Linked DNA regions of Homo sapiens. The protein of the gene in region 1 purifies or fractionates together with the protein of each later gene. This does not show direct contact. Each region holds a gene or a part of one and is shown on either strand. Other genes may lie near its edges. The genes, in order: UGT2B7, PXMP2, GALNT10, CYP4F2 and RBP3.

Region 1 (4,527 bases):
GGGTTGCTAACAATTTTTGGACAATATTGATAATTCTGTCATAAATATTCTTCTATATGGTATTAGATTTATTTATACATATCTGTTGGGTATATAACTGGGAGTAGAATTGTTGAGATAAAAGTGGAGACATAGTTGTGATTCACCTCTTGATCTCTAAAATTTAAAGATATGTTAGTTATAGTTTTTATAACCTCCCTTACTTCCACTATGGCTGGATCATATAGTCTTTATGATATTGAACCTTATTATATGTACTAAATCTTGATTTATTGCCCACCACATATCACTTCAGATAACTATTCGACATGCTCTAGGAAAATGTGTCTTCAAGTTGATATATATGATACATATATGTTTATTGTGTGTGTATGTATGTGCGTTTGTATCATTTTACATTATAAGATTCCATTTGTTAATTGTGTTCTTCAAATGTTTTATGTCTTTACTAATTACTTGCTCTTTTCTAAAGTCTGTTTAGATTGAGTGAAAGTATTTGTATAATCATATTTAAATCTACCAATTTGCTTTATATATTTTTTTTCTATTTGTCCAAGCTGGTTTGTGTTCTTTTTCAATTATTTCCTATCTTCTTTAAAGGTATTTTTATCATTCATTATCCTTCTTTTTTTGTGATAAAGTATTTTTCAAGTATTCCTTTAGATGATACCCTGCTTATATAAAAAAACATTATTGATAGTAGCTATAAATGCTGAATTGATGGTAGCTGGACTCCACAAGGAATTTTGCACATTGATATCTTTGGGTTTGAAAAAATCAATTATTAAAAATTTAACTTAAAATTATATTTTTTGTGCTTCAAAGACCAACATCAAAAAGTAAAATTTAGTGCACCCAGAGTGGGACAAAATATTTACAAGTTATATATCTGACATGACCCATAATATATAAATAGTTCTTAAACTTAATAATAAGACAAATAGCAAAGTTTAAAAATGTTCCAAGGATTGGATAGACTGTTTTCAAAGAAGATATATGAATGATCAGTAGGCACGTATGAAGATTCTCAACACCTTTAGCCGTAATGAAAATGCAATCCAAGACCAGGATGAGAGATCATTTTACACCCACTAAGAAGGCTGTAACAAAAAGTCAGGGAATAACAGGTTTGGCAAAAGTATGGAGGAATTGGAACCATGTTGTACTGCTGGTGGTAGTCATGAATGAAACAAGTACTTTGGAAGACAGTTTAGCAGTTCTTCATAAACATACAGTTCCCACATGAAGCAGCAATTCCACTTATAGTATCAACCCTAAAGAAAGGAAAACATGTTTATGCAAAAACATGTGTAGCAATCTTCCTAATAGCCACAATTGAAAACAATCAAAAGGCCAATGAACTGATAAGTGAACAACTAAAATATGACATATCTTTACTAAAAAATATTAAACTGCTATAAAAAGAAATGAAGTATTAAAACACACAACAACATGAATGAAACTAAAACCAGAAAAAAAAAACAACAAAAAATTAGCCTAGGTGAAATGTCATTTCACAACACCCTAAACTGTATGATTCCATTCATATGAAATATCTAAAGAGAATAATCTATAGAGAAAGGAAACAAATTAGTTAGACCAGGGCTAAGCGGTCATAGGAAGTGACTTCTGTGTCATTGCAGTTTCTTTTGTGTTGATAAAAATGTTCTAAAATTATGTAATAGTGATGGCTTCATGGCTCTGTAAACATACTAAATATATTTGGATTTTATAACATAAACAGGGGGGTTTTATGCTATCAAAATTAAATCTCATTTTCAAGTCTGTTACAATAATGATAATAATAAAAGTTAATTTTTCAGCAAGAAAATGGTTATACTCTGAGGTGTTTTAGATATCTAATTAAAATATTTTATTATATTATTTCAGGTTTATTCTTCCTTTCTTCTATGGATTAATTATGTCAAATTTTTAAGAAATGTATTTTTTGTATTATCTATATCCTTTTAAAATTATTTTTGTGTAGAAAATTGTTTCACTAACTGGCTATTCTTTAGATGTATGTGTTTCAAATTCAATTTTTAAATAACTTATAAAAATAAAAGCAGATTTCAGATTGGTTAAATCATTTAAATTCTTTCAAAATTAGTCTCTTATAAAAAGGATGAAACTCACACTCACTATTGACAAGAGAAGCTATCTGTAAATACCACCTAGTGAAAAATATTGTTCTACTCACGAAGGATCATTAATTACTCTCTTCAATGCATTCAGCAAGTCTGTACTCGACATTGTGTTGAAGTCCACTCTAACAGCTGCTCCCCTGGCCTTCATGTGAGCAATGTTATCAGGTTGATCGGCAAACAATGGAATCCCCACCATAGGGATCCCATGGTAGATTGCCTCGTAGATGCCATTGGCTCCACCATGAGTTATAAAAGCTCTGGTCTTTGGATGACCTAGGATTGGATGAATTTTAGCAAAATTACTCATAGGAATAAAATGAGATGCACAATGAAAGGCTCTGAAAGTGACAGTGTTTTCCAGCTAAAACACTGAACTAAATTAAAATTGTGTTTCAGACTTCGGAGGAAAAAACACGTACTTGTACTGGGTATGTAACTGAAGGCTATACGGTGTGTGTGACTTCAGACTGCAAAACAATACAAGATTTCCAGTTGGGCTAATGAAAAATTGCATTCTAGATTTCAAAAATGTGCAAAAAAGAAGACAGCAAAGAGATAGGCATGAAGTGAACTCTTATTTTAAGTGCAGTCACAGAGTGTGATATATGGGGTGGGCAAGGCAGCAGGCAGTGGTTTGGTGGTGGTGCTAGGATTGAGGAAGGACAGGTCACACTTCATCGTGAAATGTATCATCACTGTATGATTAAGATTAGCAGTTTAATTCTTCAGAAAATACAGAGTCACTGGTGATAGAAGAGCTATTATTTTTAGTGGCATTTCAAATAACCCTGCGGGAGAGGAAAAAAACAGGTGTAAAGTTGTAGAAATAGGAGACAGAGAGACAGCCCAGGAAGTTATTGAAAAATTTTGTGAGATATAATAACACCTGAAATAAAGATTCCCCCGATTCAGACTATAAAGAATGTGGGTGTATATCATAAAATGCCAAAAATTATAATGTATTCTTTCTCCCTTAAGACTGGAAAATCAATATAAAGAAGTTACATTTTGTTTTTCCTTAACAAATATTCAATAAGCTTGTTTCATGATGAACTATTAACACTCTAATGTGCTGTTACTAATATATTCAGTATTTGTTCACCAGAGTCTTACCTAGAAGGTCATTCTGGGGTATCCACTTGTAGAGCCGAGTATTGAGACCTAAGGTATCTGGTTTATTCCCATCAAATCTCCACAGAACCTGTTACAATAAAGAAAATATTTTATTCCATGAGTGGAATTCAAAAGTTATAGAATGTGAGAACTGTATAAAGAGTAGGAATGAGATCAAGGGATGTTAGTAAATAAGAACTACTCAAAGACTAATGTAAATAGAATACTCACATTAATTTTCTCAACTTTTATAATTAGTTAGGTATATAAGGAAATCATGATTTTCCAAAATAGTACCTTAGAAAAAATCAGATTATCAATGAAAATTTCAAGCATTTAAAAAATTGTTACACCTTTTAAAAGAAAACCTACGTGTGGCCAACCATCATATGAAAAAAAAAAAGAAAAAAGCTTAACATCATTAGAGAAATGCAAATCAAAACCATAATGAGATAGCATCTCACACCAGTCAGAATGGCTATTATTAAAAACTCAAAAAATATCATGATACTGGTGAGGTAGTATAGAAAAGGCTTGCTTATAATCTGTTGGTGGGAATGTAAGTTTGTTCAACCATTGTGGAAGACTGGCGATTCCTCAAAAACCTAGAGGTAAAAATACCATGAAACCCAGCAATCCCATTACTGGGTATATAACCAACGGACTATAAATGGTTCTTTTATAAAGACCCATGCACAGGTGTATTAATTGCAGTACTTTTCACAATAGCAACGACATGGAATCAACCTAAATGCCCATTGATTATGGGCTGAATAGAGAAAATATGGTACATATACACTACAGAATATTATGCAGTCATAAAAAAGAACAAAATTATGTATTTTGCAGGGATATGGATGGAGCTGGAGGCCATTATCCTTAGCAAACTAACAAAGGGATGGAAATATAAATATGGCATGTCCTCACTTATAAGTGGAAGGTGAAAGATGAGAACATGTGGACAAATAGACAGGAACAACATACACTGTGGTGTATTGGAGGGTGGAGGGTGGGAGGATCAGGAAAAATAATTAACTGATTTTAGCCTTAATATCTGGGTGATGAAACGAACAGTACAATAACCCCCCATGACACAAGTTTACCTATGTAAAAAAACTACACATGTCCCCTTGAACTTAAAATAAAAGTTACAAATAAAAGTTAAATTAATTTAATTTTTTAAAATTAAAAATATTCTAAAAATGTATAAAAATTTTAGCTATTCCTTATAATTCTAGTGTAAAAAATAGTAACAATTTTGTAATGA
Region 2 (4,527 bases), on another chromosome or scaffold:
GACAAAAATAAATAAATAAATAAATAAACACATTAGTCTGTCAAAATTTTTTCTGAATATTTTGATAACTGTATTTCAGTATTATTGGTTCCTTTGTAGTCCTATTTTATTTATTTATTTATTTATTTTTTATTTTTGAGGCAGAATCTCGCCCTGTTGCCCAGGCTGGAGTGCAGTGGTGCGATTTCAGCTCACTGCAACCTCTGCCTCCCGGGTTCAAACGATTCTCCTGCCTCAGCCTCCTGAGTAGCTGGGATTACAGGAGCCCGCTACCACACCCAGCTTATTTTTGTATTTTTAGTAGAGATGGGGTTTCACCATGTTGGCCAGGCTTGTCTTGAACTCCTGACCTCGTGATCCGCCTGCCTTGGCCTCCCAAAGTGCTGGGATTACAAGCGTGAGCCACTGCGCCCAGCCGTATTTTATTTTATAGATTACAAAACATTCTGAGAAGGGGGTCCACAGGCTTCACTAAACTGCCAAAGAGATCTGTGGCACAAGAAGTTTGAGACCCCTACTGATAACACAGAAGAGTTCCGGGCCTGGAGGTTAACCTACCGGCATAATCCCAGTCAGAATCCAACGCATGGGAGGCGTGTTCACCTGCACTCAGCAGGTGTGTCTGTTCTGACTGTCCCACCTCCCCCGTTCACGAGCACCTTCAAATCCTCACCATCTCTAGGAGCACCAGCCAGGTTGTGCTGTGTGTCTGAGACGTGTCACCTTTTTTTTTTTTTTTTTGAGACGGAGTCTCACACTGTTGCCCAGGCTGGAGTGTAGTGCGTGATCTCAGCTCACTGCAACCTTCGCCTCTTGGGTTCAAGCAATTCTCTGCCTCAGCCTCCCAAATAGCTGGGATTGCAGGTGCCCGCCACCATGCCCGGCTAATTGTTTTGTGTTTTTAGTAGAGACGGGGTTTCACCATCTTGGCCAGGTTGGTATTGAACTCCTGACCTCGTGATCCACCCGCCTCGGTCTCTCAAAGTGCTAGGATTACAGGTGTGAGCCACTGCACCTGGCGTCACCTTCTGTCCTGAAAGTAAATTTGTTTTAACCATTCACTTCTCCATACAGAAGTTATAAAGGTTCATGTATTCAAACATGACATTATTCTCCTTCATGCCTTTCCTTACAGGAAGATAATAGAAATATTCTCCTCTGCTTTCCTCCGGTATTCTTATGGTTTTACTTGTGTACAGTAGGAGATAGACTTCTGTGTTGATTTTTCCACTTACATAGCAAATTTTCTCATTACCATTTATTGGGCAATCCCCAGTATTTTGAAATATTCTCATTTCCATCTGTACAGGCAATTATCTGCACTCTTTGTTCTTTTGCTGGATTATTTTCTTTTTTTTGAGATGGAGTCTCACTCTCGCCCAGGCTGGAGTGTGGTGGCACAATATCGGCTCACTGCAACCTCCGCCTCTCGGGTTCAAGTGATTTTCATGTCTCAGCCTCCAGAGTAGCTGGGACAACAGGCGCCCACCACCACGCCTGGCTAATTTTTGTATTTTTAGTAGCAATGGGGTTCCTCTGTGTTGGCCAGGCTGGTCTTGAACTCCTGGCCTCAAGTGATATGCCCACCTTGGCATTACAGGCATGAGCCACTGTACCCAGCTTCTCCCCCTTACTTTAAACAAGAAAATATTTAAGCATTTCTTTAAAAATTTTTTTTAGTTTGTATATATTTAGAGGGTACGAGTGCAGATTTCTTATGTGACTGTGCTGTGGTGAAGTCTGAGCTTTTACTTCCCATCACCCAAGTAGTCAGTGGTGATTTTCAACCCTCTTCTCCCCGCCACCTTTTCAAGTCTCTGGTGTCTGTTATTTCCCTCTGTTGGTCCATGTATACCCACTGTTTAGCCACCACTTATGAGTGAGAACATCGGCTGAGGCAGGAAGGTCACTTGAACCCAGGATGTCGAGACCAGCCTGGGCAACAGAGTGAGACCCCTTCTCTACAAAAAAATTAAAAATCAAAGGGTTGTGGTGGCACATGGCTGTAGTCCCAGCTACTCAGGAGGCTGAGACGGAGGCTTGATGTCAGGAGGTTGAGGCCAAGTGAGCCGACATCACGCCACTGCACTCCAGCCAGCATGGGCAACAGAGTGAGATGGCGAGACCCTGTCTTGGAAAAAAAAAGTGAGAACATGCAGTGTTTGACTTTCCATTGGTGAGTTGTTTCACTTGGGATAATGGCCCCCGGTTCAATCGACGTCACTGCAAAAGACATGCTTTTTTTTTTTTTTTTTTTTTTGACACAGAGTCTCGCTCTTTCATCCAGGCTGGAGTGTAGTGGCGCAATCTCATCTCACTGCAACCTCCGCCCCCCAGGTTCAACGATTTTCCTGCCTCAGCCTCCCAAAGTGCTGAGATTACAGGCGTGAGCCACCGTGCGCGGCCGAGTTCATTCTTTTTTTTATAGCAGAGTAGTGTTCCGTGGTGTATTTATGGCACTTTTTCTTTATCCAGTCCTCTGTTGGGGGACGTTTAGGTTGATTCCACGTGTTTGCTGTTGTGGATAGCGCTGTGATAAACACACGAGGGCAGGGATTGTTTGATATGATTCCTTTTCCTTTGGGTAGAGGCCCAGTAGTGGGATTGCTGGATCGAATGGTGGTTCTATTTTCAGGTCTTTGAGAAATTTCCATACTGTTTTCCAGAAGGGCTGTACTAATTTGCATTCCCACCAGCAGTGTGTAAGTGTTCACTTTTCTCCACATTCTTGCCAGCATCTATTGTTTTTTGACCTTTTTTTTTTTTTTTTTGAGGCAGAGTTTCACTGTGTCAGCCAGGCTGGAGTGCAGTGGCACGATCTCGGCTCACCGCAACCTCCGCCTCCCGGGTTCAAGTGATTCTCCTGCCTCAGCCTCCTGAGTAGCTGGGATTACAGGCACACGCCACCATGCCCAACTAATTTTTGTATTTTTTTTTTTTGGTAGAGACAGGGTTTTCCCATGTTGGTCAGGCTGGTCTCAAACTGCTGACCTCGTGATCCGCCCACCTCAGCCTCCCAAAGTGCTTAAATTACGGTCATGAGCCACCGCGCCTGGCCACTTGACTTTTTAATAATAGCCATTCTGACTCGCGTGAGGTGGTATCTCCTTGTGGTTTTAATTTGCATTTCTCTGATGATTAGTGATGTTGAACATTTTTTCATATGTTTCTTGGCCACTTGTTTTTCTTCTTTTGAAAAATGTTTGTATCCGTTGCCCACTTTTTTAATGAGGTTATTCATTTCTTTCTTGTTGAGTTGTGTAAGTTCCTCACAGATTCTGGATAACAGTCCTTTGTAGGATGCATAATATGCATATATTTTTTCCCAGGCTGTAGACTGTCTGTTGATTGTTTCTTTTGCTGTGCAGAAGCTTTTTTGTTTAATGAAGTCCTGTTTGTCTGTTTTTGGTTTTGCTGTATTTGCTTTTGAGCACTTAGTCACAAATTCTTTGTCTTGGCGGACGTCCAGAGGAATTGCTCCTAGGATCTTTATGGTGTCAGGTCTTGGGTTCAGGTCTTGAATCCACCAGCTGACATTTAGAATGAACTTACTGGAGTCCTTTTTTTTTTTTTTTCATAACTCCTAACAAGTTTTGATTGGAAAGACATCGACTTTGGAGGTTATTTGGGAGGAATTGACAGCGTAGCTCTGAGTAGCAGTTCTGGTGCCCAGGGCCAGCCTTGGGAGTCACCTCCTCCAGTTGTCCGCAAGGAGTTTTGGGCCAGGACAGACATCACTGCCAGCATGAGCAGGCTGCTGTCTGGCATCTCACTGATCATTTTCCATCTTGCTGGTTGGCTCCTTAGAGCCGCAGTGCTGAGTACACATGTGTGCTGTCTGCGTACACACAGAACAAAATCCAATAGCAGTTTAAAAACCATCACGATAGGGTCTGGGTGCCCGGAATTCAGTTCTGATGGGCAGTGAGACTGTTCACCACCCGCCTTCCCTCCTTTGCAGGGGAAAGACGCCTCAGCCTTCGCCGCCAAGATGAGGGGGGGCTTCTGGCCGGCGCTGAGGATGAACTGGCGGGTGTGGACGCCACTACAGTTCATCAACATCAACTACGTCCCTCTGAAGGTGAGGGCCACGGGGCTCAGCCTCTGCTAACATTACTTTGTCAGCCTTTTCCTTCCTTCCTTCCTTCCTCTTTCCTCCCCCCCTCCCTCCCCTCTTCTTTTCTCTTCTCTTCTTTCTTTGGTAGTTTTCCGCTAGACTTAGTTTCATCCGTGTCTAGACTCCTCAACTACCCTTGGATTTTGCCCATGACCCTGAATCATTGCTAGTTCGGGATTCAGGAAGCAACAGAGAAGGGTGTCCCGAGTGGTCGTCTTTGCCTCTTCTGTTCGTTCAGCAAATTCTCATTAAAAGCCCCCATGCCAGGGATGCCTATGAGTTTTCTAGCCTTTGAAACATTCCCAGTCCCAGGAATGTACATGCAGGCAACTTGAATCTATGCTCCTGGGTTGCAGTCCTCAAACTTGGCCCAAATAAACTCTAGTTATACTTAGAAAAAGAAGGCCGTC
Region 3 (4,779 bases), on another chromosome or scaffold:
ACCATATCTAATACCTGATAGCATGAAAATGTTTTGGTAAGCAAGTACTCATGCCTGTTGGGTAAGCATCAGAAATGAGTTACAGCTGGGTGTGGTGGCTCATGCCTGTAATTTCAGCACTTTGGGAGGCTGAGGCAGGAGGACTGTTTGAGGCCAGGAGGTCAAGAACAATCTGGGTAACATAGCAAGACTCCATCTCTACAAAAAATAAAAAAAATTAGATGGGCATGGTGGTGTGTGTCTGTGGTACCAGCTACTAGGGAGGCTGAAGTGGGAGGATCACTTGAGCCCACAAGTTGAAGGCTGCAGTAAACTATGAGTGCCACTGCACTCCAGCCTGGGTGACAGAGGGAGACCCCATCAAAAAAAAAAGTTATGCTTATTTCATATTGTCACTGCCCTCCTGAGATCCTCCGCTCCTGGGTGTGACCCTTTGTGGGCTGCCCCACGTAACTCTTCAAGCTAACCTCCTTCTGCTCCTCCAACACAGAAACTTCTACTTACCTCAGGGCCTTTGCACTAGCTGTTCCCTCTGCCTGGAACTCTGTTCCGGGAAATCATCTTGGTTCACCCTCCTTCATGTCTTTCAGCTCTCACCATTCTAGCTAACGTTGACCCCCACTCCAGTCTCTAATATATCATTGCTTTATACCCTTCATAGCCCTATTTGCATCTGAAATCATCTTAGTTGTTTTAGGTCTGCCTTTCACTCTAGAATGATGGCTGTTGGGAGTTTTTAGTACCCAGCAGAATGCCTGAGTCCGAAGTAGGTGGTCTACGTGAAGAATGATGAAAAGAAGAATGACACATGAGAAGGAAGAAGGCAGAGACCACTTTAGAGAAAGTCTGGAGGTTTACTCAACAACGTTCACAATCACAATTGTACATGGTAAATCAGTCTTTCACAAAGGCTTATTTTTCCAGGCAGGAGGAGAGGCTGGTGGTCTTGAGCTTTTGGCCTGGAATTCCAGTCTGAATTTTCAAATATTCCCTGCCTCCAACCCCTTTGGGATCCTAGTCTTCAAGCCAATAACAGAGCAGGAGTCTGACCCTGTTCTGTTGCCTGGCACGGCTGAATCAAAGCCATTCTGGAAGCAGATGTTAAGGTGAACTTGTCACTTGGTATGTAGGTCCGACTCCCATCCCAGAGGTGGCAGTGGGCCTTGGCTCAAGATCAAGTTTGAACTAAAATATTACTTGGATTTTTCACAAAGAGTGTCCGTTGAAAGCAATAAGGAATTCCAGAACAGAACTGCACTTCTTGTCCCTCTCTCACACTTACAAAGCTTCAGAAAACATTAAAAATGCATTACCTCCTAGGAATTACAAAAGATCACCCAACTGTACAAACTAGATATCGCTGAAGCAGAGACTCTGATTCCTCAGTTACTACTGTAAAGTGCTTTGCCACTCTTTTTGAGACTCCAGAGACTAGGAAAATGGAGATGCACAGAGAGACATAAGGAGCTGTTTTCCAAGACATCACCTGTTTCTTAAGGAAAAAAAGAAATTCAACTGGTGGGAAGTTTGAAAAGTGAATGTCATGTAGACTTTGGAAATCCATTTGTTACATCTTTAACAGAAACTGCTCTTTCTCTCCTGGACCGAATGTCACATCCTCTCGTCCGATTCCTCCTGTGGATGTACCCCGTTCTGCCTGAGCATTTTTTCCTAAAGGGAAGAATCAATAGTTTCTGACTGTTTTAACAGCTGAAAGCTCCAACTGGAGGCAGAAGATGGGATGGCTTTTCACACACGTGCGTGCAAGTTTAGCCACCTCCAAAGGCCTTGTTCTTAAAGCAACAGTGCTGTTTGCATTATGAAATGTCTCTGGAGTTCCCCTTTGGAAAGGCTGCTGGTGGGCCACATGGTCACGATACTTTCAAGTCACACCCTACTTTGTGACCTTATCCTCAGAGTAAAGGCTTTAGAGGAAAAGGGACCCCACAGTCTCACCCATTACCTGGCTGTCAGCATCTCCATATGCTCCTGGCTGAGTTTTATTGAGCATCAGCTGGGGATGTGAGCAGAAACCTGAATCCTTGAGACAGGTGGTTTTCAAAAAGGAAGCCATAACAATGAGTGGCTTAGTACTGGCAATTGATCAGTTGGTCCATGAAATGGAGCCAGTCAAGTTCTGTCCTTCCTTCCCCTCCCACATACTTTGTCAAGTCCCAGGACCTACTGATATGGGCTCAGCAATGACAAATGCCAGAGTGCTCAGAGGACACACCCATCCCTTTTCAGGGTGTGAACCCAGACTGGAAAGGAGAACCAAAGGATGGGAAAGGCAGGCCCGGGACGGCTTGCTGCTGCTCCTGCTTTCACAGGAATCCTGGTCATGCCAGGAACACTGCCGCCCACTTGGGGTGGGACTATGTGGAAGTCTAGCTAGTGCTCGGCACCCCTTAACCCAATGGTGAGAAACAGGACAAACATGCTGGGGGTTCAGAGGGTGGACCGCAGGGATGGCCCCCAAACAGGTCCCAGTGAGGTAATGCAAGGCCTCCTCTCGGGGGCTGATGAGGTCTTCTAGGCCACAGACTAAACGCACTGCCCAGCCTTTAGTTTGGAGTGTGACTTGCACTGACTGAAATAAATCTGACCTGTCACCCTTGGGGGACATCTCAGTCTCAGATCTTGCTCCAGACCCAACATCTCCTGCTTGAAATGAGACATTAAGAAACACACACTCATCCAGTAGGAACTGCACACACCACCAAAAACGTTCCCCTCCCCACAACCCTGCCCCTTTATGTTTGTCTAGCAAGGCACTAGGAAATGGTTCAAGTTTAGGGATTTGCTCTATATTTGCATTTTTCTTTTTAAAAGGCACAGTTTTTATTTTAACGACGCTGCATTGCTCTTTGATGATGAATCTCAATTCGACTCCTCAAACTGTCAACACTCTTGTTATCCTAGATTCTAGAAGGGGCCTCATCTTTTGACTTCTTTCTATAGAGGGCCACTTCTAAAGCTACAGCACTCATTTGGAAAAGGACACTGGGATCAACACGTAAGCGTTGCAAGCACAGGGGCCGCCTCTCTTGCAGACAGGTGGCCAAAGCAGGGCTTGTGCTGGGCCAGAAGTGGAAGTAATTCCTCGCCAGCTACACATTCAGTCTGACTGGTGGATGATTGGGAGTGTTTGTCCCTCCCTCCCCCAATAATTGATGGCCTTGAGATCTGCCAGCATCTCAAAGGCAGATTCGTGGCTCTGTTCCCAGACTTAGGTCTCAGTTATTTAATTGGTAAATGACACAATCAAGAGACTCAACACTAATTGGAATGCTGATTTCAAGTATTTCCTGGGCTAGCTGGTGGAAGCCATAGATTGTGGAATGTGATTTCCATTTCTGAATCAGTGGGTGGCAGGTTGGTTACAGAAATGCTTCCTATTAGTCTGGAGGCCCTCTAGGAGTCTGACATGTAATTAACAAAGCAAAAGGTAAACATGAAGGGCTGGCATGGAGCTGGGTGTATATCTGGCTGTGGGACGTCGGGTTCTTTTCTCCACTGCAAATGAGACTACAGTTGTGATGATGGTGGGAGGTTCCAGGGGTGCAGGTCTTCACCAAGGACCATGTTGTACCACAGCCTCTGCTGAGCTGAGGGACACATGTCCCCCTGCTTTCCCAACACCACCAACTTTGGATTTCACAGATTGTCTCTAGGCTGGGGGCTGCCTTGACTGTATTACACCTGGCTGGCTCCTTTAATCACAGCATTCTAGAAATCCATATTGGATGTGGAATACCAGAATCCTATGTAGCATCCTAGTTTGCAATCCAATTATAGAGTTCTTTAAAAATTCTGGAGTTCTGTATGAGAACTAGAACCATGATGAGGTCAGAGGCAGGCACTTTGCCCACAGTTGATCCTGGAGGCCTCCAGACTCTGTGAGGTGAGCACCTCGCAGCACCTCTGTTCCTCTTTTGAGGCCAGTAATTGCCTGGGGAAGAGAGACAGGGAAATGGAAGCATGGATCAGGGCAAATCAGCCAGCATTTCTAGTTTGGAGGTCTACCTGGCCTTTTCCGTGGGCTCAGGGCCATCTGAAACACTGCCCTGTAAAGCTGGTGCTGGGCTGTCCTTGTGCCTGGAGAGTGCTAAAATTGACATTTCAAATACCCAGAGAGCAGGGGGAGATATCCCGCATGTCCATAGCTGCAAAGAAATGTCTAGGGGGGCTCCCTCTTCTGACTCCTCACCTGGCAGCTGATCAGCATTCAATACTGAACACTCTTAGGGCCCCAAGTATGGCCTTTGACCGGACCAAATCACCTGGGGTTGTGACAGAGAACAGAAGCTGTGCAGTAACTGCAATGTTCCCCCCAGGACGGCAGAAACTAAAAAGCCCCAAGAGGACTTCTTTCTCTTCTGCTGCAGATGAGTGGCATCGATACTAAAAGCTGCCCCAAACAGGCAAATTTTACCTTTGTTTCTAAAGCACCATCATGTAGGAGAGCCATCTGAGGGCTGGGCAACCTCGCAGGACTCACTTTTGGGTGGCCTAGGCTACCTTGGTGTTCTCCCACATAATGTTCAAGGGGACATAGTGACAAAGTTGAAAAGGCTCTGTTGCTTTTCCGTGATGTCAGCAGGGATTAAAGCAGTCTCTGCTCCCTGTGGGGCCTCTTGTGGGATATGCTCTTCACCCTACCCCCACAACTCAGGGGCTCAAGGACCAGGCAGACCCCAGCCCCTGAATCAAGAGCCCTCTTCACCCTGAACCATTTGGCCAGCACCTTTTACACCTAGTGCCCACAGGGGCCCTGCC
Region 4 (4,527 bases), on another chromosome or scaffold:
TAGTGTGGAGGGCGTACTGGAGAGGACCAGCTGTAGAATGAAGGCACAGTGGGGACATTCTGAGACCAGAGCCAGGCCAGGGGCTGGAGGAAGGAGAGGAAGCATTGGAATGGACGGATGTCTTGGATTCAGTGTCCTCTCGTCCACACCTTTGCCCAGCACAGCAGTCCAGTGAGGAGGAGAAACATTTTTCTGCTTTTAAAACCAATAATTTTTCTGCATTTTTAACAAACAATTTTTTATTGCTGCATAAATAGATGCACATAGATTTGAAATACATGTGATAATCTAATACATTCATATAACTGGTAAAGATCAAATCAGTGTACTTGGGATATCTGTCGCCTGAAATATTTAGTCTTTTCTTTATGCTAGAAACATAACTAACATAAGCTAACTATTTAGGAATATACAGTACATATCGTAAACTATAGTGAACCCACTGATCTATCAAGTGCTAGGTTTTATTTCTCCTATCAAACCTCTTATTTATGCCCGTTAATCAACTTCTCCTCACCCCTCCCTCCCTTCTACCAATCTACCTTCTACTTTCATGAGATCCACTTTTTCAGCTCCCACATGTGAGTGAGAACATGCGATATTTGTCTTTCTCTTTTTGGCTTATTTACTTACCACAGTGACCTCCAGTTCCATCCATGTTGCCACAAATGACAAAATTCCAGTGTTTTTAATGGTGCATAGTATTCCATTGTGTATACATGCCACATTTCCTTTCTTCCTTCCTTCCTTCCTCCCTCCCTCCCTCTCTCTCTTTCTCTCTTTCTTCTTTCCTTTCTTTCTTTCTTTGAGACAGAGTCTTGTTCTGTCGCCCAGGCTGAAGTGCGGTGGCACGATCTTGGCTCACTGCAACCTCTGCCTCCCGGGTTCAAGCTATTCTTCTGCCTCAGCCTCCCAAGCAGCTGGGACTATGGGTGCACACCACCATGCCTGGCTAATTTTTGTATTTTTAATAGGGCTGGGGTTTCACCATATTGGCCAGGCTGGTCTCGAACTCCTGACCTCATGATCTGCCTGCCTCGGCCTCCCAAAGTGCTGGGATTACAGGCATGAGCCACCGCACCCGGCCGCCACATTTTCTTTATCCATTCAGTTGATGGGCACTTAGGTTGATTCCATATTTTGGCTGTTTTGAATAGTGCTGCAATAAATACGGAAGTATAGATATCTCTTCAACAGTTTTATTTTCTTTCTTTGGGATAGAAATTTCTTCTCTTTCTTTTCAGTAGTGGAATTTCTGGGTTATATGTTAGTTCTACTTTTAGTTTCTTGAGGAACCTCTGTGCTGTTCTCTGCAGTGGCTGCGCTAATTTATATTCCTGCCAACAGTGTGTGAGAGTTCCCCTTTCTCCATATCCTCACCAGTGTCTATCGTTGCCTGTCTTTTTGATAAAAGCCATTTTAACTGGGATGAGATGATATCTCATTGTGGTTTTGATTTGCATTTCTCTGATGATTAGTGACATTGAGCATTTTTCCATCTATCTGTTGGCCATTTGTATGTCTTATTTTAAGAAATGTCTATTCAGATCTTTTGACCATTTTTAAATAAGATGATTTGAGTTCTTTTTCCCCTATTGAGTTATTTGAGCTCCTTATATAATATATTCTGGTTATTAATCGCTTGTCAGATGAGTAATTTGAGAATATTTTCTGCCATTCTGTAAGTTGATTCTTCACTTTGTTGACTGTTTCCTTTGCTGTGCAGAAGCTTTTTACCTTGATGTAATCTCATTTGTCTATTGCCTGTGCTTTTGAGGTCTTAACACAGAAAATCTTTGCCTGGACCCATGTCCTGGAGTATAAAATCCAGATTTCAAGCAAAATTATGGATGTGGTTAAAAGAAAGGGTCCAAAAAATTTTATGATAAAAATGAGCTTCCTTATTAAGCTCCACCTTAGCAGTGACTATGGTCAACAGTTTTCTGTGTATTCTTCCAGAAAATGGCTATCCCAATGCCCACATTTATATGAATTCACACTGTGATTTTTATTTATATGAACACATACTGTGTTTTTCTTTGTAAAGAAAACTATACAAAATAGACGCAGTTCTGGACATTATCTCTGAGATCTATTTTTCTTAAAATACGAGTTTTCAAAAATGAGTTTGTTTTTAAATTGTTCTTTCATTGATAAATTTTAATTATATATATTAGAGGTACAATGTGATGTTATGATGTATGTATACAACCTGAAATTATTAAATCAAGGTAATGAACAAATCCATCACTTCATATATTTATCATTTTTATGTTGAGAACATATATATATTAGAGGTACAATGTGATGTTATGATGTATGTATACAACCTGAAATTATTAAATCAAGGTAATGAACAAATCCATCACTTCATATATTTATCATTTTTATGTTGAGAACATTTGAAATTTACTCTCTTAGCAATTTCAATTAATACATTGTTCACTAAATCACCATGCTGTGCAGTAGATCTCAAAAACTATTCCTCTTGTCTAACTGAAGCTTCTATCCTTTGACCAACATCTCACCCTTCTCTATCCCTCCCTCAGCCCTGGCCTCTGGTAACCATCATTCTGCTTCTATTTCTTTTCTTTTCTTTCTTTCTTTTTTTTTTCATTTTTGAGATGGAGTCTCGCTCTGTCACCCAGGCTGGAGTGCAGTGGCACGATCTCAGCTTACTGCGACCTCTGCCTCCCAGGTTCAAGTGATTCTCCTGCCTCAGCCTCCTGAGTAGCTGGGATTACAGGCTCCCGCAACCACGCTTGGCTAATTTTTTTGTATTTTTATTAGAGACGGGGTTTCACCATATTGGACAGGCTGGTCTTGAACTCCTGACCTTGTGATCTGCCGCCCTTGGCCTCCCAAAGTGCTGGGATTACAGGCGTGAGCCACCGCGCCCGACCTCCACTCCTGTTTCTATGAGCTTGACTATTTTAGGTCCCAAGATAAGTAAGATCATGTGTGTTTGTGTTTCTGAGCCTAGCTTACTTCACTTAGCATAAGTTCCTCCAGGTTCTTTCATGTTGTGGCAAACAAAATAAGTTTTCTTTCTTTTTTTTTTTTTAAGGCTGAATGGTATTCCATTGTATATACACACCACATGGAAAATGAGCATTAAATTATAAAACCAGTGATAAGAACAGATTCTTCTTGCACCAAATGAGATATTACAGATAAGACTAGCTTTTTCCTTGACAATCCTGCCACCCCACCTAATCCTTTCTCATTCTCCAAAGGTGTCTCCAGAGCCATAGATTTGTTATCTATCTATCTATCTATCTATCTATCTATCTATCTATCCATCATCTATCTATGTATCTATATACCTATCTACTATCTATATATCATCTATGTATCTCTGTTTCTATCATCTATGTATGTATCTGTCTATTCTCTATCTCTCTATATCTCTTATTTATTATCTGTCATCTATCAATCTATCATCTATCTCTGAATCATTAATTTCATAAATATATATTCATATACTTTTTGCCCTTTTTATGTGCACAAATGTATATATTTGTAACTTGTTTTCACTCGACAGTGTGTCTTAATGCTATTTTTTTCTGAATGCTAAATATTTTATTCCTTATTTATTCAGCTCATTCCTATGTTGAATGCACATAAACATTTTCAGTTATAGTAGATATTTCCAATTTGCCTTCCACAGTGTCTGTACTGATTTACCTTCCAGCCTGCAGAATGTGATGAGACTAGTGATCCCTATTTCCTCCTTTTGTGTAGCTGTATAGTATTCCATCGTGTGGCTGTTTATCTAAACATCTTCCCATCAATGTGTATGTGGCTTGTTTCCAACCTTTTGCTAAAAGTGGACATGAGGCAGTCAGCATGTGTGCACAGTGACCATTCCTTGCATGTATAAGCATCTCTGCAGGACAAATTCCCTGAAGTGCAATTGCTGAATCAAAGAACATTTGCACTGTACAATTTTAATTATCATTGCAAATCCTTTCCTATTAGCTGAGTTTGATGGCACAAGTTTTCCCATAACTTTACCAATACTACTAATGTATTATTAAATTTTAAAATCTATGCCAATCTTCATATTTCTTCTTTTGATGGACATTGTTTTAAATAAGAGTGAGGTTGAACATCTCTTTCACGTGTTGATGTTTGTTTCTTTTTATGGAAGTGGTTCCTTTATTTTTTTGCTCTTTTTCTTTGGATTCTTTAAAAATATTTACTTTTAAGAATGTGTATTAAAATTGATTTTTTTTTTTTGAGATGCAGTCTCTATCGCCCAGGTTGGAGTGCAGTGGTGTGATCTCAGCTCACTGCAACCTCCACCTCCCAGGTTCAAGCCATTCTCTTGCCTCAGCCTCCCGAGTAGCTGGGACTACAGGTGCCCTCCACCATACCCCGCTAAGTTTTTGTATTTTTAGTAGAGACGGGGTTTCACTGTGTTAGCTAGGATGGTCTCGATCTCCTCATGTTGTGATCCACCTGCCTTAGCCTCCCAAAGTGCTGGGATTACAGGCATGAGCCACCACGCCCAGCCAAAATTGA
Region 5 (5,111 bases), on another chromosome or scaffold:
GATGGCTTCTAAGCTACCCTGCACAGCTCTGCCCACAGGACATTTGTATAAGTGAGGGGGTGCAGGGCCTTCCAGCCCCCTCCAACTCCAAAACTCAGCCCCCAAGATCAAGTGGACTCTCTGAACCCACCCTGGCCCTACAGTTGTCAGGGTCTGGATGGGAAGATGTAGAGCTCTCGGCTTTCACTCTGGGGACTTACCCAGAACATATTCTCCTCATGAGCTAAGGAGGCTGGCTGCCATCTTCCTACATCCCCCCACGGCCTGGGGGCAAGGACACCCTGGCCCCCTGGAGTCTGGAGAACTCTGAGGACAGAACTTGCTCTTCCACCTGCTTGGGCCTTACCCACAGGAGAAGCACTGCTTCTCTACCCATGCCCCATCCAACTCAGGCACCCCAGGGACTTGCAACAGTCTGATTTTTTCTCACGTCCTTCTTAAGGCTCTGGGCTAGCCACACAAATCAAATCCCAGTGATAGGTCCAGACAATCCTATCCTGAAACTACATCTTAGTAAGACTCCAGGGAATCCTTTCCCCAAAGACAGTCTTACTCCTGTTCTCCCCCAAGCCCTTTCTGGGCCAGAAGCTTTGCCTGGACTCAAGCAATGGCAGACAAGTGCCCTCTGAGGACACGGAAGTGCATGCTCAGAACTGTGATTCTCCAAGTGGAGGCAGAGGAGAAGGCCCAGGCTTCCCAGCAGGGCTAAGGATATGCAAGGAGTGCATTCATCCGGAGGTGTTGGCAGCATCCCAGCCCCACCCCATTCTCATCGTAAATCAGGCTCACTTCCATTGGCTGCATACGGTGGAGTGATGTGACCATATGTCACTTGAGCATTACACAAATCCTAATGAGCTAAAAATATGTTTGTTTTAGCTAATTGACCTCTTTGGCCTTCATAAAGCAGTTGGTAAACATCCTCAGATAATGATTTCCAAAGAGCAGATTGTGGGTCTCAGCTGTGTAGAGAAAGCCCACGTCCCTGAGACCACCTTCTCCAGCTGCCTACTGAGGCACACAGGGGCGCCTGCCTGCTGCCCGCTCAGCCAAGGCGGTGTTGCTGGAGCCAGCTTGGGACAGCTCTCCCAACGCTCTGCCCTGGCCTTGCGACCACTCTCTGGGCCGTAGTTGTCTGTCTGTTAAGTGAGGAAAGTGCCCATCTCCAGAGGCATTCAGCGGCAAAGCAGGGCTTCCAGGTTCCGACCCCATAGCAGGACTTCTTGGATTTCTACAGCCAGTCAGTTGCAAGCAGCACCCACATTATTTCTATAAGAAGTGGCAGGAGCTGGGATCTGAAGAGTTCAGCAGTCTACCTTTCCCTGTTTCTTGTGCTTTATGCAGTCAGGAGGAATGATCTGGATTCCATGTGAAGCCTGGGACCACGGAGACCCAAGACTTCCTGCTTGATTCTCCCTGCGAACTGCAGGCTGTGGGCTGAGCCTTCAAGAAGCAGGAGTCCCCTCTAGCCATTAACTCTCAGAGCTAACCTCATTTGAATGGGAACACTAGTCCTGTGATGTCTGGAAGGTGGGCGCCTCTACACTCCACACCCTACATGGTGGTCCAGACACATCATTCCCAGCATTAGAAAGCTGTAGGGGGACCCGTTCTGTTCCCTGGAGGCATTAAAGGGACATAGAAATAAATCTCAAGCTCTGAGGCTGATGCCAGCCTCAGACTCAGCCTCTGCACTGTATGGGCCAATTGTAGCCCCAAGGACTTCTTCTTGCTGCACCCCCTATCTGTCCACACCTAAAACGATGGGCTTCTATTAGTTACAGAACTCTCTGGCCTGTTTTGTTTTGCTTTGCTTTGTTTTGTTTTGTTTTTTTGTTTTTTTGTTTTTTAGCTATGAAACAGAGGTAATATCTAATACAGATAACTTACCAGTAATGAGTGCTTCCTACTTACTGGGTACTGGGAAGAAGTGCTTTACACATATTTTCTCATTTAATCTACACAATAAGTAATTAAGACATTTCCCTGAGGCCACGGGAGAGACAGTGGCAGAACAGTTCTCCAAGGAGGACTTGCAAGTTAATAACTGGACTTTGCAAGGCTCTGGTGGAAACTGTCAGCTTGTAAAGGATGGAGCACAGTGTCTGGCATGTAGCAGGAACTAAAATAATGGCAGTGATTAATGTTATGATATGCAGACACAACACAGCAAGATAAGATGCAATGTACCTTCTGGGTCAAACCACCCTGGCCACTCCTCCCCGATACCCAGGGTTGATGTGCTTGAATTAGACAGGATTAAAGGCTTACTGGAGCTGGAAGCCTTGCCCCAACTCAGGAGTTTAGCCCCAGACCTTCTGTCCACCAGCTGAGAAGGACAAGGGCGGAAGGCAGCTGCACAGAGCAGGGCCACGGCCTTGCACACAGTCCAGGGAGCTTTTGTGCAGGAGCCAGGCCTCCCCCTGGGTCCCCATGATGAGAGAATGGGTTCTGCTCATGTCCGTGCTGCTCTGTGGCCTGGCTGGCCCCACACACCTGTTCCAGCCAAGCCTGGTGCTGGACATGGCCAAGGTCCTCTTGGATAACTACTGCTTCCCGGAGAACCTGCTGGGCATGCAGGAAGCCATCCAGCAGGCCATCAAGAGCCATGAGATTCTGAGCATCTCAGACCCGCAGACGCTGGCCAGTGTGCTGACAGCCGGGGTGCAGAGCTCCCTGAACGATCCTCGCCTGGTCATCTCCTATGAGCCCAGCACCCCCGAGCCTCCCCCACAAGTCCCAGCACTCACCAGCCTCTCAGAAGAGGAACTGCTTGCCTGGCTGCAAAGGGGCCTCCGCCATGAGGTTCTGGAGGGTAATGTGGGCTACCTGCGGGTGGACAGCGTCCCGGGCCAGGAGGTGCTGAGCATGATGGGGGAGTTCCTGGTGGCCCACGTGTGGGGGAATCTCATGGGCACCTCCGCCTTAGTGCTGGATCTCCGGCACTGCACAGGAGGCCAGGTCTCTGGCATTCCCTACATCATCTCCTACCTGCACCCAGGGAACACCATCCTGCACGTGGACACTATCTACAACCGCCCCTCCAACACCACCACGGAGATCTGGACCTTGCCCCAGGTCCTGGGAGAAAGGTACGGTGCCGACAAGGATGTGGTGGTCCTCACCAGCAGCCAGACCAGGGGCGTGGCCGAGGACATCGCGCACATCCTTAAGCAGATGCGCAGGGCCATCGTGGTGGGCGAGCGGACTGGGGGAGGGGCCCTGGACCTCCGGAAGCTGAGGATAGGCGAGTCTGACTTCTTCTTCACGGTGCCCGTGTCCAGGTCCCTGGGGCCCCTTGGTGGAGGCAGCCAGACGTGGGAGGGCAGCGGGGTGCTGCCCTGTGTGGGGACTCCGGCCGAGCAGGCCCTGGAGAAAGCCCTGGCCATCCTCACTCTGCGCAGCGCCCTTCCAGGGGTAGTCCACTGCCTCCAGGAGGTCCTGAAGGACTACTACACGCTGGTGGACCGTGTGCCCACCCTGCTGCAGCACTTGGCCAGCATGGACTTCTCCACGGTGGTCTCCGAGGAAGATCTGGTCACCAAGCTCAATGCCGGCCTGCAGGCTGCGTCTGAGGATCCCAGGCTCCTGGTGCGAGCCATCGGGCCCACAGAAACTCCTTCTTGGCCCGCGCCCGACGCTGCAGCCGAAGACTCACCAGGGGTGGCCCCAGAGTTGCCTGAGGACGAGGCTATCCGGCAAGCACTGGTGGACTCTGTGTTCCAGGTGTCGGTGCTGCCAGGCAATGTGGGCTACCTGCGCTTCGATAGTTTTGCTGACGCCTCCGTCCTGGGTGTGTTGGCCCCATATGTCCTGCGCCAGGTGTGGGAGCCGCTACAGGACACGGAGCACCTCATCATGGACCTGCGCCACAACCCTGGAGGGCCATCCTCTGCTGTGCCCCTGCTCCTGTCCTACTTCCAGGGCCCTGAGGCCGGCCCCGTGCACCTCTTCACCACCTATGATCGCCGCACCAACATCACGCAGGAGCACTTCAGCCACATGGAGCTCCCGGGCCCACGCTACAGCACCCAACGTGGGGTGTATCTGCTCACCAGCCACCGCACCGCCACGGCCGCGGAGGAGTTCGCCTTCCTTATGCAGTCGCTGGGCTGGGCCACACTGGTAGGTGAGATCACCGCGGGCAACCTGCTGCACACCCGCACGGTGCCGCTGCTGGACACACCCGAAGGCAGCCTCGCGCTCACCGTGCCGGTCCTCACCTTCATCGACAATCACGGCGAGGCCTGGCTGGGTGGTGGAGTGGTGCCCGATGCCATCGTGCTGGCCGAGGAGGCCCTGGACAAAGCCCAGGAAGTGCTGGAGTTCCACCAAAGCCTGGGGGCCTTGGTGGAGGGCACAGGGCACCTGCTGGAGGCCCACTATGCTCGGCCAGAGGTCGTGGGGCAGACCAGTGCCCTCCTGCGGGCCAAGCTGGCCCAGGGCGCCTACCGCACAGCTGTGGACTTGGAGTCTCTGGCCTCTCAGCTCACAGCAGACCTCCAGGAGGTGTCTGGGGACCACCGCTTGCTAGTGTTCCACAGCCCTGGCGAGCTGGTGGTAGAGGAAGCACCCCCACCACCCCCTGCTGTCCCCTCTCCAGAGGAGCTCACCTACCTTATTGAGGCCCTGTTCAAGACAGAGGTGCTGCCCGGCCAGCTGGGCTACCTGCGTTTTGACGCCATGGCTGAACTGGAGACAGTGAAGGCCGTGGGGCCACAGCTGGTGCGGCTGGTATGGCAACAGCTGGTGGACACGGCTGCGCTGGTGATCGACCTGCGCTACAACCCTGGCAGCTACTCCACGGCCATCCCGCTGCTCTGCTCCTACTTCTTTGAGGCAGAGCCCCGCCAGCACCTGTATTCTGTCTTTGACAGGGCCACCTCAAAAGTCACGGAGGTGTGGACCTTGCCCCAGGTCGCCGGCCAGCGCTACGGCTCACACAAGGACCTCTACATCCTGATGAGCCACACCAGTGGCTCTGCGGCCGAGGCCTTTGCACACACCATGCAGGACCTGCAGCGGGCCACGGTCATTGGGGAGCCCACGGCCGGAGGCGCACTCTCTGTGGGCATCTACCAGGTGGGCAGCAGCCCCTTATATGCATCCAT

What was found.
Region 2: the proteins of UGT2B7 (region 1) and PXMP2 purify together in Homo sapiens (co-immunoprecipitation; one study listed by IntAct). This does not show direct contact.
Region 3: the proteins of UGT2B7 (region 1) and GALNT10 purify together in Homo sapiens (co-immunoprecipitation; one study listed by IntAct). This does not show direct contact.
Region 4: the proteins of UGT2B7 (region 1) and CYP4F2 purify together in Homo sapiens (co-immunoprecipitation; one study listed by IntAct). This does not show direct contact.
Region 5: the proteins of UGT2B7 (region 1) and RBP3 purify together in Homo sapiens (co-immunoprecipitation; one study listed by IntAct). This does not show direct contact.

Annotation. Positions count from the first base shown.
Region 1 is NC_000004.12:69,105,996-69,110,522, reverse strand, and holds part of UGT2B7 (UDP-glucuronosyltransferase 2B7 isoform 1 precursor), read right to left. Parts: intron 3,349-4,527; coding exon 3,261-3,348; intron 2,421-3,260; coding exon 2,201-2,420; intron 1-2,200. UniProt on the Homo sapiens protein: UDP-glucuronosyltransferase (UGT) that catalyzes phase II biotransformation reactions in which lipophilic substrates are conjugated with glucuronic acid to increase the metabolite's water solubility, thereby facilitating excretion into either the urine or bile.
Region 2 is NC_000012.12:132,697,289-132,701,815, forward strand, and holds part of PXMP2 (peroxisomal membrane protein 2), read left to right. Parts: intron 1-3,961; coding exon 3,962-4,081; intron 4,082-4,527. UniProt on the Homo sapiens protein: Seems to be involved in pore-forming activity and may contribute to the unspecific permeability of the peroxisomal membrane.
Region 3 is NC_000005.10:154,417,040-154,421,818, reverse strand, and holds the end of GALNT10 (polypeptide N-acetylgalactosaminyltransferase 10), read right to left. Parts: 3' UTR 835-4,779; downstream 1-834. UniProt on the Homo sapiens protein: Catalyzes the initial reaction in O-linked oligosaccharide biosynthesis, the transfer of an N-acetyl-D-galactosamine residue to a serine or threonine residue on the protein receptor. Has activity toward Muc5Ac and EA2 peptide substrates.
Region 4 is NC_000019.10:15,880,339-15,884,865, reverse strand, and holds part of CYP4F2 (cytochrome P450 4F2 precursor), read left to right. Parts: intron 1-4,527. UniProt on the Homo sapiens protein: A cytochrome P450 monooxygenase involved in the metabolism of various endogenous substrates, including fatty acids, eicosanoids and vitamins.
Region 5 is NC_000010.11:47,346,052-47,351,162, forward strand, and holds the start of RBP3 (retinol-binding protein 3 precursor), read left to right. Parts: upstream 1-2,311; 5' UTR 2,312-2,433; coding exon 2,434-5,111.